Regions from separate parts of the Homo sapiens genome. Here region 2 is linked to region 1. Evidence: fine-mapped expression QTL. A gene starts in region 1. The other region holds a variant in brackets. All regions are shown on one strand. Distances are from middle to middle. Region 1 holds the start of RBBP5 (RB binding protein 5, histone lysine methyltransferase complex subunit). Region 2 overlaps DSTYK (dual serine/threonine and tyrosine protein kinase).

The links. PIP is the estimated chance that this variant, and not a neighbour inherited with it, causes the effect. A credible set is the group of variants that fine-mapping cannot tell apart.
Region 2: its variant is the best candidate, but not a certain one, in a credible set for the expression of RBBP5 in naive CD8 T cells (Schmiedel 2018, PIP 0.60).

Annotation. Positions count from the first base shown.
Region 1 is chr1:205,119,746-205,125,120 of GRCh38, reverse strand. It overlaps RBBP5 (RB binding protein 5, histone lysine methyltransferase complex subunit), which reads left to right and starts at 3,143. Exons shown (of 14, transcript NM_005057.4): 1 at 3,143-3,266. The coding sequence starts at 3,248. RefSeq lists a silencer at 2,166-2,460 and enhancers at 2,822-3,041, 3,182-3,361, 4,525-5,083.
Region 2 is chr1:205,188,255-205,193,629 of GRCh38, reverse strand. The region is part of intron 1 of DSTYK (dual serine/threonine and tyrosine protein kinase); the gene reads left to right. Among named protein-coding and RNA genes, the nearest start is that of DSTYK, 21 kb to the left of the region's middle. RefSeq lists an enhancer at 1,527-2,071. The variant G/TG (reference allele first, on the strand shown) is at 3,015.

The sequences.
Region 1 (5,375 bases):
TGGTTGTACTGATTCACATTCTCTTGAGAGAATTCTCTTACAAGAATTTTGGGTGCTCTTCTTTTAGTTTGTCAACTTTGTCGTTGTAAATATCTAATTGTGACTTAATTTGCATTTTACTGATTACTGATGAGATCTGGCGTTGTCAAATAGATCACTTCCCTTTTTTTGAAGTGCCATGGCTTGCTCTCTAATTTTTACAGGTTATTTAAACTTTCTTTTTTTTTTAAAAGAAAAAGGCCAGGCATGGTGACTCACCACCTGTAATGGCAGCACTTTGCGGGGCCGATGTGGGCAGACAGCTTGAGCCCAGGAGTTCGAGTCCAGCCTGGGCAACATGGTGAATCCCTGTCTACAAAAACTACAACAATTAGCTGGGCATGTTGGTGCCTGCCTATAGTCCCTGCTACTTGGGGGGACTGAGGTGGGAAAATCACTTGAGCCTGGAGGTTGAGCTGCAGTGAGCTGTGATCATGCCACTGCACTCCAGCCTGGACGACAGAGTGAGACTCTGTCTCAAAAAAAAAAAAAAAAAAGAAAAGAAAGAAAGAAAAGAAAAAAAAAGAAAGTCCAAATAGGATTGGAGGGGTAGAAAGGGAAAAAGAGGTGTGAGGAAAAAGGTGTACTGAAAATCCCTCAGTGGGCCGGGTGCTGAGTTGAGATTGCGCCACTGCACTCCAGCCCAGGCGACAAGAGCAAGACTCCCTCTCAAAAAAAAAAAAAAGAAAAGAAAAGAAAATTCCTCAGGGGTTTTCTAACACTATTTTTATTTTCATTTTATTTATTTATTTATTTTGAGATGAAGTCTTGCTGTTGCCCAGGCTGGAGTGCAATGGCATGATCTTGGCTCACTGCAAACTCCACCTCCTGGGTTCAAGCGATTCTCCTGCCTCAGCCTCCCTAGTAGCTGGGATTACAGACATGCGCCACCACACCTGGCTATTTTTTGTATTTTTGGTATAGACGGGGTGTCACCATGTTGGCCAGGCTGGTCTCGAACTCCTGACCTCGTGATACGCCTGGCCTCTGCCTCCCAAAGTGCTGGGATTACAGGTGTGAGCCACTGCACCTGGCCTCACTATTTTTATTTTTAACAGCTTTAATTTTAACTTCATTAGCTATATTAGCATCCAATCTGTAAAAATTATTACATTGGAATCAGGCGTGGTAGCTCACAGCTGTAATCTGTAATCCCTGCATTTGGGAGGCTGAGGCAGGAGGATTACTTGTGCCCAGGAATTTAAGGTTACAGTAGTGAGCTATGGTTTCGTCATTGCATTCCAGCCTGGGCAACAGAGTGAGACCATATCTCTAAATACATATATATATGATTACTTTGGATTTGAGAGTAGAGTCAGAGAATTTAGAGGAAACTAGGCTGTGGTTTTCACACGATATTTTTCCTTGTTGCTTTTGCCTTTATGCAAAGTTTTCCTTTGTCTTTGGAGAGTAGAAAAACTGTGGATTTTTTTTTTTTTGAGACAGAGTCTCACTCTGTTGTCCAGGCTGGAGTGCAATGGTGCGATCTTGGCTCACTGAAACCTCTGCCTCCCGGGTTCAAGCGATTCTCCTGCCTCAGCCTCCCGAGTAGCTGGGATAACAGGCATGAGCCACCACGCCCAACTAATTTTGTATTTTTAGTAGAGACAGTGTTTCTCCATATTGATCAGGCTGGTCTCGAACTCCCGACCTCAGGTGATCAGCCCGCCTCGGCCTCCCAAAGTGCTGGGATTACAGGCGTGAGCCACCGCACCCGGCTGCAAAAGACATACTTTATAAAGGTCCAAGGATAATGGAAATAGAAGACATTAATGTAATATGTTCTTGGGAACTAATTGGATACACCAAGTATTATCTTTGACTAGTTTCTGGACTTCTGCTTCATTCTGCAACCTGCAGCCAACTACCATGGTGTCCATCTATTATTAGGCGCTTTAAATAGCTCCTTAATTCACATTTACTCTCTTCAATCGATGTGTCAGACTGTGGGGGCCACTTAATTCCCATTCCAAATTCTTGGGAAAGGAATTTAATTGGGTTGAGCTTAGGTCAGGGGCTTACTGAAAGAGCAATCAACTGGGGCCCAGGGACAGGGTGCACTGTGTGAATGAGGCTGCTTTTTCTGCAAATTTGTCAAGTAGAGGCAGACTGGACTAGCTACATAATTTGCAGGGCCCTGGGCAACATGAAAATGCTGGGCTCCCTAGTTCAAAAGTTTCATTATTGTTTCCAAAAGTTTGCAATTGCAGACAATACTGCGATTAATAAACTTGTGTATGTGTATTTTTCCATTGTCGGAGACCTAGCCCGAGTACTATTTTCTGCAGCGAGCCTTTGACGTTGTTTCCTTTTTCTGATGAGCCACAGCATTTATAGTAGGAATTTGTTCATATAAAATTTGCTCTTTCGCTAGATACCAGTAACTGGACTTCTCTAATTGCTTTGGGTATTTCATTGGAGTTCTGTATGACTGAGCTCCGGGAAACTCAGTCCACCCCTCATTCCAATTCTTTTTCACAGTCTTTTTCACAGCGTCCCTGTCAACACTGTTTGGTAAAGGGTAAAACCTTAGATAATAAGGTTTTTATTATCTTAACACAGACAGGCCTAACATATGTTGTCGTACCTTTCTGTAGGATCAATAGCATATCTTTACAAATGAGAAATAATTTTCACGAGACCGAAACACCCTGCAACGCCACCTACATACAGGGTAAGTACGCGCCTTGGTGAGGTCAGCGGCGCTACACACCCGAGCACTAGGGGACGACCTTCCCTGGTTTCTTGCATTAGCAGGACTTGTCCGGAACCTTTCCTGCGGAGTCTGAGGTAGCCCGCCCGGACAACGCCGCTGAACACACAACAGGGCAAGAACTAGTAGGTTAACTGTATGCCTGGAATTTCTACCTCACCTACATGTTCCCGGAGCAAATAATCTTAAATTGTCGCGCTATTTAAAGTCCCTAGTGACGATAACATTGTTGTACCTCAGCAAAGATCATAATTAATTGTTTCCGAGAGAGTGTATGCTTGATTTTGGTCAGGCATATATTTGGGCAGCCCACCTGAAACGAACAAGGAAGGCGGGGGAAGAAAGCGGAAGCCGCGGGGCCTTCTAAGGCCGAAAGTCTTCGGAGCTTGCGCCAGTCTCTTCGCGGCGTCCACCACTTAGACGCAAGTTGCTGAAGCCGGCCGGGGAGAAGGTGTTGTTGCCGGAGCTGAGACCGGGCGGCCACAGTCCGCAGGGATGAACCTCGAGTTGCTGGGTGAGAAGGGCTGTGGCTGCGTTTTAGAGAAGCGTTGGGTACTGGAAAGGAGGGAACCCAGGCGGGAGGGGAGTCAGGCTGCAATCTTAGGGACACTGTTCGGCTATGGATCACTGGGCACACCTGATGTGGAGCAGCAGCGGGAGGAGGAAGCCCACCTTCTGCCCGAGTAGGTTGCATTGCCCCTCCCGAGGCCACTTTCATATCAATTATGGAGCGATGGGGACAGACAGTTTGTGACTTAGCTTTGATTATGAGGATCGCAGGTGTTGAAGTACCCAGAGCAGCCAGGACCAGAGTTGTTGGAGATGGAATTTGAAGAAGTGAGGCTTGGGATGAAGCTTTGAAGACTTGTCAGGGAATTGGGTGCCTGAACAGGTTAATCTTTTTGTAGAAAAGAGAAGTCTAAGGAGGGGACTTGGAGATCTTCTGGTAGAAGCTTCTCATTGAACAGATGAATAAAGGCTCAGAGGGTAATGGCTAGGCACTAAGCAAGTAAATGGCATAGTTGGCACTGGAATCCAATTATCCTAACTTTCTGTTTAAGGTCCTTTGCTAGGGACGGTGTGTAAAACACTGAGGTGTGAAATACGGAGGGAGTTGTCTTTTGTCGCCCTCACTTTGAGTCATTGCCTCCTTACCTCCTATCCAGATTATTTAAAAACTGTAGGTCCTTTCTCCTGGACTTCCATTAGGTGACATTTAGCATGGTATTCTAGGGGTAGCTGAGGTTTTCAAGGACTTCTGCACTACTTGCTGTTCCTAATGGTTAGGTTTCTCTTTTAAAAAAGTCAGAAGATATGTTAATTGTCAAAAGGGCTACAAAGATACATAAAAAATGGTCTTTGCCCTTAAAGAGCTTTTCATTAAGCAGGGAGTTTAAGGTGATTATGTAAAATAGCTGTAGGATATTGCAGAATGTAGGCAGGCCTGAAAGAGTCATTACCAGTTGCTAAGAATGTTTGGAACAGAGAGTGAATGTCTTTGGGGTAAAGGAAGAAGTCAACCAGGAAAAACAAACCCCCCAAACCTGTGGAGGAGTTGGAGTTTTAAGTGGACTTTTTTTTTTTTTTTTAAGACAGCCTCGCGCCGTCGCCTAGGCTGGAGTGCAGTGGCACAGTCTTGGCTCACTGCAACCTCTGTCTCCTGGGTTCGAGTGATTCTCGTGCCTCAGCCTCCTGAGTAGCTGGTACTACAGGTGCGCACTGCCATGCCTGGCTAATTTTTGTATGTTTAGCAGAGATGGGGTTTCACTGTGTTGGCCAGGCTGGTCTCAAACTCCTGGCCCCAAGCAATCCACTCACCTCAGCCTCCCAAAGTGTCCGGCCTTAAGTGGATTTTTAAGGTTGGTAAAATATCAACAGGCTGAAGTATGAAAATATGGGAGGGATGTTCAGTAGGCATCAGTGAGAGAAGACCTAAAGAATTTTCCTGCTTGGCCAGGTTGTGGATAAAGAGAATGCCAGGGGATGGGATCGGTGCCATCTATTTTGTGTTGGTTCTCGAATGCCTAGCTCAAAAGTTTGGGCTTTTTAGGGAAGGTAGGGTAGATCCATTGAAGGATTTTGACTTAGTAACTCAATCAGAGCTATGAGTTTGTAAGGTTTGTCTGACAGCAATGTGGAGTTGAGTTTTGGAGGAGTGTAAAACCAGTTTGGAGGGGTAGATTATATGAGTGATGAGGAAGGCCTGAGCTAGGAAATAGAAAAGACATTGAGGAGGTAGGGATGACAAATTTGAGAATAGATTGCATATAGTGCTGATGAGTAAGAGAGTGACGTGAAAAATGGTGAGAGCAAATAATGATGCTGTTGATAAAGTGTAAGGTCATTGGAAAAAGACAGCTTTGGAGAAGCTGAATGTGGTCTAGGGGTCAGGAGACAGGTTTGGATTTATGGGAGAGATTTGTATTCTTTCAGATGGGCTCATTGAAACCTTGTGAATAGAGGACATGATCTAGAGAAAAAGTGGGAGGGGGAGAAAAGAAAATTGCCAAGCACACAATCTGTAGTTAGAGGTTAAGAGGAGGAATAAGTGGAGATAATAAGTTAGCTAACGGTTATAAAGTACTTTCTCTGAGCTAGGCAGATTTTCAAGTGCCTTCCATGT
Region 2 (5,375 bases), 69 kb before region 1:
CAAAGTGTTGGGATTACAGGCATGAGCCACTGTGCCCGGCCAGGGTTTCTAGTTTCTATGGTCTTGAGGAAGAGGAATTCTGGTTTCTGTGAGTAGCTTAAGGGGAGAAAAAGGGGAGGCAGACAGGAGGCTAGGAGAAGGTCAGAGAGCAACCTTGCTTCTGAAGCCTTCCAATCTCCTTTAGTTCAAAGTGCTCAGCATGCCAAAGCACCATACTTTGGGCTATTGTTTTCTGAGCCTGATGGGATGGAAAATAGGCAAGAAGGAGAATGTGTTGCTACAAATCGATTGACATTACCCCAAAAACAATTTAAATAAAGTATGTATCTTAAAGAGTCACTAGCAACAGAAACAGGTCACGAGTATTTCCTCCCTCCCATCTTCTCTTTTCAGAGTAGTCACCCAAACAGTAATACACACTGACTGTTGAGCAGAGCACTAAGAATTTCTCTGAAAAGAGCCTACTGTTTCTTTTAGCAAAGAGACTTTAGAGATCTCAGGTAGAATAACATTTTTTGAAAGTGTGTACCAGCCAGTGGTAATGCTGCGGTTTTCTCCATATGCTTTATTCCTCATGGTTTGGGGCAACTTTCATAGGGATTGTATCAGTCTGCTTTACATTGAGGTCCTACAGTTACTAAATTGCATTTGACCCCAGACTGGAAAACAATGTGGCGTAGGGGTCATTGTCTACTGGCCCCCAGAGCTCTGCAGTTCACTGCTGAGAGAAATGGAGAAACCTGAGCTGTTTCTTGTTTTTTCTTTTTGAAATGGAGTTTCGCTCTTGTCACTCAGACTGGAGTGCAATGGCGTTATCTCGGCTCACTACAACCTCTGCCTCCCGGGTTCAAGCAATTCTCCTGCCTCAGCCTCCCGAATAGCTGGGATTACAGGCGTCGGCCACCATGCTTGGCTAGTTTTTATATTTCTAGTAGAGATGGGGTTTCACCATATTGGCTAGGCTGGTCTCGAACTCCTGACCTCAGGTGATCCACCTGCCTTGGCCTCCCAAAGTGCTGAGATTACAGGCATGAACCACTACGCCCAGCCTGGTTTGGTTTTTTGAGCATCCATTTCCTCATCTTTATTATTATTATTTTGTGAGGCAGGTGACTCACCCAGGAGAGTCTCACAGTAGCGTGATCACAGATCACTGCAGCCTCGACCTCCCCAGGGTCAAGGAGTCTTCACACCTCAGCCTCCTGAGTAGTACATCACCATGCCTAGCTGATTTTTTAAAATTTTTAGTAGAAACAAAGGCACGGCGGGGGTTGCTCCCTTTGTTGCCCAGGCTGGTCTCGCACTTCTGAGCTCCATCCATCCATCCATGTCGGCCTCCCAAAGTCCTGGGATTATAGGCGTGAGCCACCATGCCTGGTCCATTTCTTCATTTTTAAATGGAGTTAATAATAGTCCTTGTCTTGTAGAATTGTGAGCATTAAATGAAATGAAGCAAATAAAGTGATCAATACATAGAAAGGGCTCAATAAATGTTATGTAAAACAAAAACCAAAATAGGTTGCTGCTTTAGTTGTTCTTCTCTTCCATCTAGCTTGAAACTTTTGTTTAGAAGTAAACAAAAATCAAAATCTGTATTTAAGAACAACCACCAAGAACAACAACAACAACAGAAGCCTTGGTTTGCACTTAAGACAATTTGATATGATTTTTCCTCCAGCCAGAGTTGGCAGGGTTAATGTGAGCCAGCTGAGAAGCCATGCTGTTACCTTCTGGCAGCCCATATGCAGATGCTGTTGTATTAATTACAAAAGAAAACTCGATTAACTTGAAGTCCTTTAACTGTCAGTGAGGCAGCTGCTCCAGCTCTGAAACAGGTTTTCTTCCTCCCTCCTACTGTCAGTCTACAGCTTTTAATCTCTTCTTTAGAGAACTGCTAAGACTGCACTGTAGGTCCTCAGAGCCCCTGGCTAGTTCAGTCTACTTTTTGTTCTGCAGTTATAGTGGTCCAAGGGGCACTTGCGTAATTAAATTCACATATAATTTAAAATAAAATAAAAACCACCACACCAACCACCCATCCCCCTCACATCATTGGTCTTTCAGCAGTTAAAACCTGGCATTTTAGAACTGGAAAGCATGTTAAAGATTATCTAATCCAACTCCACCCCCCTCCATTTACCGACGAGCATTTCAAGGCTCAGAAAGATCGAGTGGATTGCCAAGGTCACAGAGCTAGTCAGAGTGGCAAAGCCTGCCTTCATTCTCGTGCTGTTCCCACTTCCATATTGCATTCCACCACATCACTGAGCAGTGTGCAAGAATCCAGGAGTAAAACCATCTGCTTTCAACTTCATTTCTCTCCATGCCCTTGTTCAAATCTGGTAGAGATGTCAAATGGATGAAAAAGCTAAAGATTTAGTGGGAGAAGCAAAGAGCTTGGATAGTGACATGTTGGAAAACAAAGACGGTGATGTTTGCCATGGACTTCTAACAGTGTACTGGGATCAACTTCAGCACCCTTTCCTACTGCGCTGGTCTTTGGTCGTTTTGACAGTAGCAAGTTTATTTGTGGTGACTTTTTGTAGGAAAGATGGAGGGGGGAAGTGTTCATTTGGGTCAGATGAATAATGGGGTGTGTCTGCTCTGGTTTTGGCTGATGCAGCCTGTTTCATTGGCTGTCCTGTAGTTGACACTTTGTTTCAGAGGTGCAGAGGCTCTCTCCCTCTCGTCCTGAAAAGTGATTTAGTCGGTTTTCTTCTCTATTATCCACTCTCCTGGTAGTAGCAGTAACAAAGGTTATTTAGTTTTGTTGGTCTTTTTGTGATGAAACCATTTTTATTATAGGAATTTAAAGGTTGTCAGTATGCATTCATGCGTAGACACTTATGTGAAAATCTGGGGAGGACAGGGAATAGAAGAAAGCTAGGAAGTGTAGGTGAGGTGAAGACAGTCTAGCTGGACTTCTCACTGCTCGAGCTGAGACTATGGTAGTTAAATTCCACAAGATGAATGGAAGGGTCCTACTCTTGGGTTTTTTTTTTTTTTTTTTTTTT[G/TG]AGATGGAGTCTCGCTCTGTTGCCCAGGCTGGAGTGCAATGGCGTGATCTTGGCTCACTGCAACCTCCGCTTCCCGGGTTAAAGCGATTCTCCTGCCTCAGTCTCCCGAGTAGCTGGGATTACCACCACGCCCAGCTGATTTTTTGTATTTTTAATAGAATCAGGGTTTCGCCATGTTGGCCAGGCTGGTTTCGGACTCCTGACCTCAGGTGATCTGCCCACCTCCACCTCTCAGACTGCTGGGATTACAGGTGTGAGCCACTGCACCTGGCTGAAGGGTCCTATTCTTTTATCCACATGAAGGAGGTTTTTAGGAGTGATGGTTGCTCTTAAACTATTCATCATGATACTGGACTTTTCAAAGTACTCAGTGGGTTTGCTTACAGCTTTCTATAGGTAGCTGTCCCCACTAAATGGATTCTCAGACAAAACAAACAAATCTATGACATTAAGCCCTTGGTAAGTGTCAGGCATTGTGTTGGGTGTTGAGGATGAAATAGGATGGTTCTTCCTGCTTTAGATGATTATAAACAGGTAATTAGAATAAAGCATGGTAGGTGTTCTGCAGTTGAGAATAAGGTATGAAGGAACTCAGGACTGGCCTGTTGCTACTTGTTAAGTGGCCACACAAGCAATTTGCTGTGTCCTCTTGCTTTTAGGTTGTAGATCAAAAGAGTAGACTAGTGGTCTGGTGTTATACTCTTGTATTTAGTAAATACCCTTGCACAGAATTATATACTTAGTTAACTCTGTTGGTTTTTGAAAGGCACTCATCTCTTTCCAAGGAGAGTAGATTTGCTTGTTTCAGTGTCTGGTGTTGCTGATGTATATGTGCGGGCCAGGCTGATATCCTTATAGACAGACATGAAAAGAAGGGCCCTAATGAAATGCATAGAGGGATCTGCGTGAACACAGACCTCTTTAACCCTTTTGGTGTTACTGTTTGTGGAAGAGAAGGATGCTTGGGGATTTGAAATCGTAGCTAGGTAGGTTCACTCTGAAGTAGAACCACCTCTTAATTGATTCAGGCCTCTTATGCTTCCAATTCTGGAAACAAACAAAATAAATGGCCTACAAATAATTTAATGCAGCTTATGGTTAAGTGACTAAAGCAAATACTGTTTCAGTTAGTGCCACCCAAAATTTCAGTTATGATGGATGTGTTTGGCTCAAGGATTGGCCCTTTTGCAGCCTAAGAACTGTGTCTGTGCTTTTCTGAACAAATGCAGGAATTGCCTGAATCTTAGAGATAGGCAGACACTGATACTGAAGGAATAAGGAAGTGATATAGTTCAGGCTGAGAGTTTCAGTGAACTAATTTCGGATTATTTTTCTCAAACACAGATTCTCATTCTTTAGGAAGCTTGTTCTGTCTTGAACATTATTTGAACGTGTTTGGGGAAGTTATCCATTTAGATTAGTAGTAGTTGCCTTGAAAGGAGAAGTTTTTTTTGTTTTTTTTTGTTTTAGATTTTTATTTTTTATTTTTTTTGTACAAAACGTAAGGGTGGTGAAAAACAGATTTTTTAAATTGACACATAGTAATTGTACATATTTATAGGATACATGTGGTATTTCGATATGTGGGTAACAATGTGGTAATGGTCAAATCAGGGTAATTGGGATGTCCATCAAGGAGAATGTTTTTGAAATAAATCACATCTCTTTCTAGATTTGCCTGGATTTTATCCTAATAGGCAGTTCTTTCCCTTTGTCCTATTTAGGGTCTTGTCTCCCATAAACAGAAGGAATGTGATTTGATTAGGAGGTATTGATGTTAATTGAGCACCCAGTGTTTTAAGGAAACAGATGACTTGGCAGCTGGGACGTTGTCACCAGCCATCAGAGAGATGAACTGGAAAAGATTCTAGAGCTTATGCAAACTTGAATAACATTTCATTTTATACATTTATACATTTTATACATTTATAGCTCATACATTTAGTAGTAAAATATGTCACAATGAAGAACATAAGCTAAAACCGCATATGGTAGATAATTTAAAAGGGCTCCATAGTGCTATATTATGTGCTGCATGATGGCATCTTGGTCAACAAAGGTACAGTATTTTTAGCATACGTTTTCTATGTTTAGATATGTTTAGATACACAAATACTTACCACTGTGTTACAGCTGTCTATAGTATTCAGTACAGTAACATGCTGTACAAGTTTGTAGCCTAGGAACAATAGGCTACACCCTATAGCCTAGGTGTGTAGTAGGCTATACCCATACCACCTAAGTTTGTGTAAGTACACTCTGATGTTTACACAATGACAAAATTGCCTGATGATGCATTTCTCAGAATGTATGCCTGTTGTTAAGCAACACACGACTGTAATCTGAGTTCAAGTATTAGGT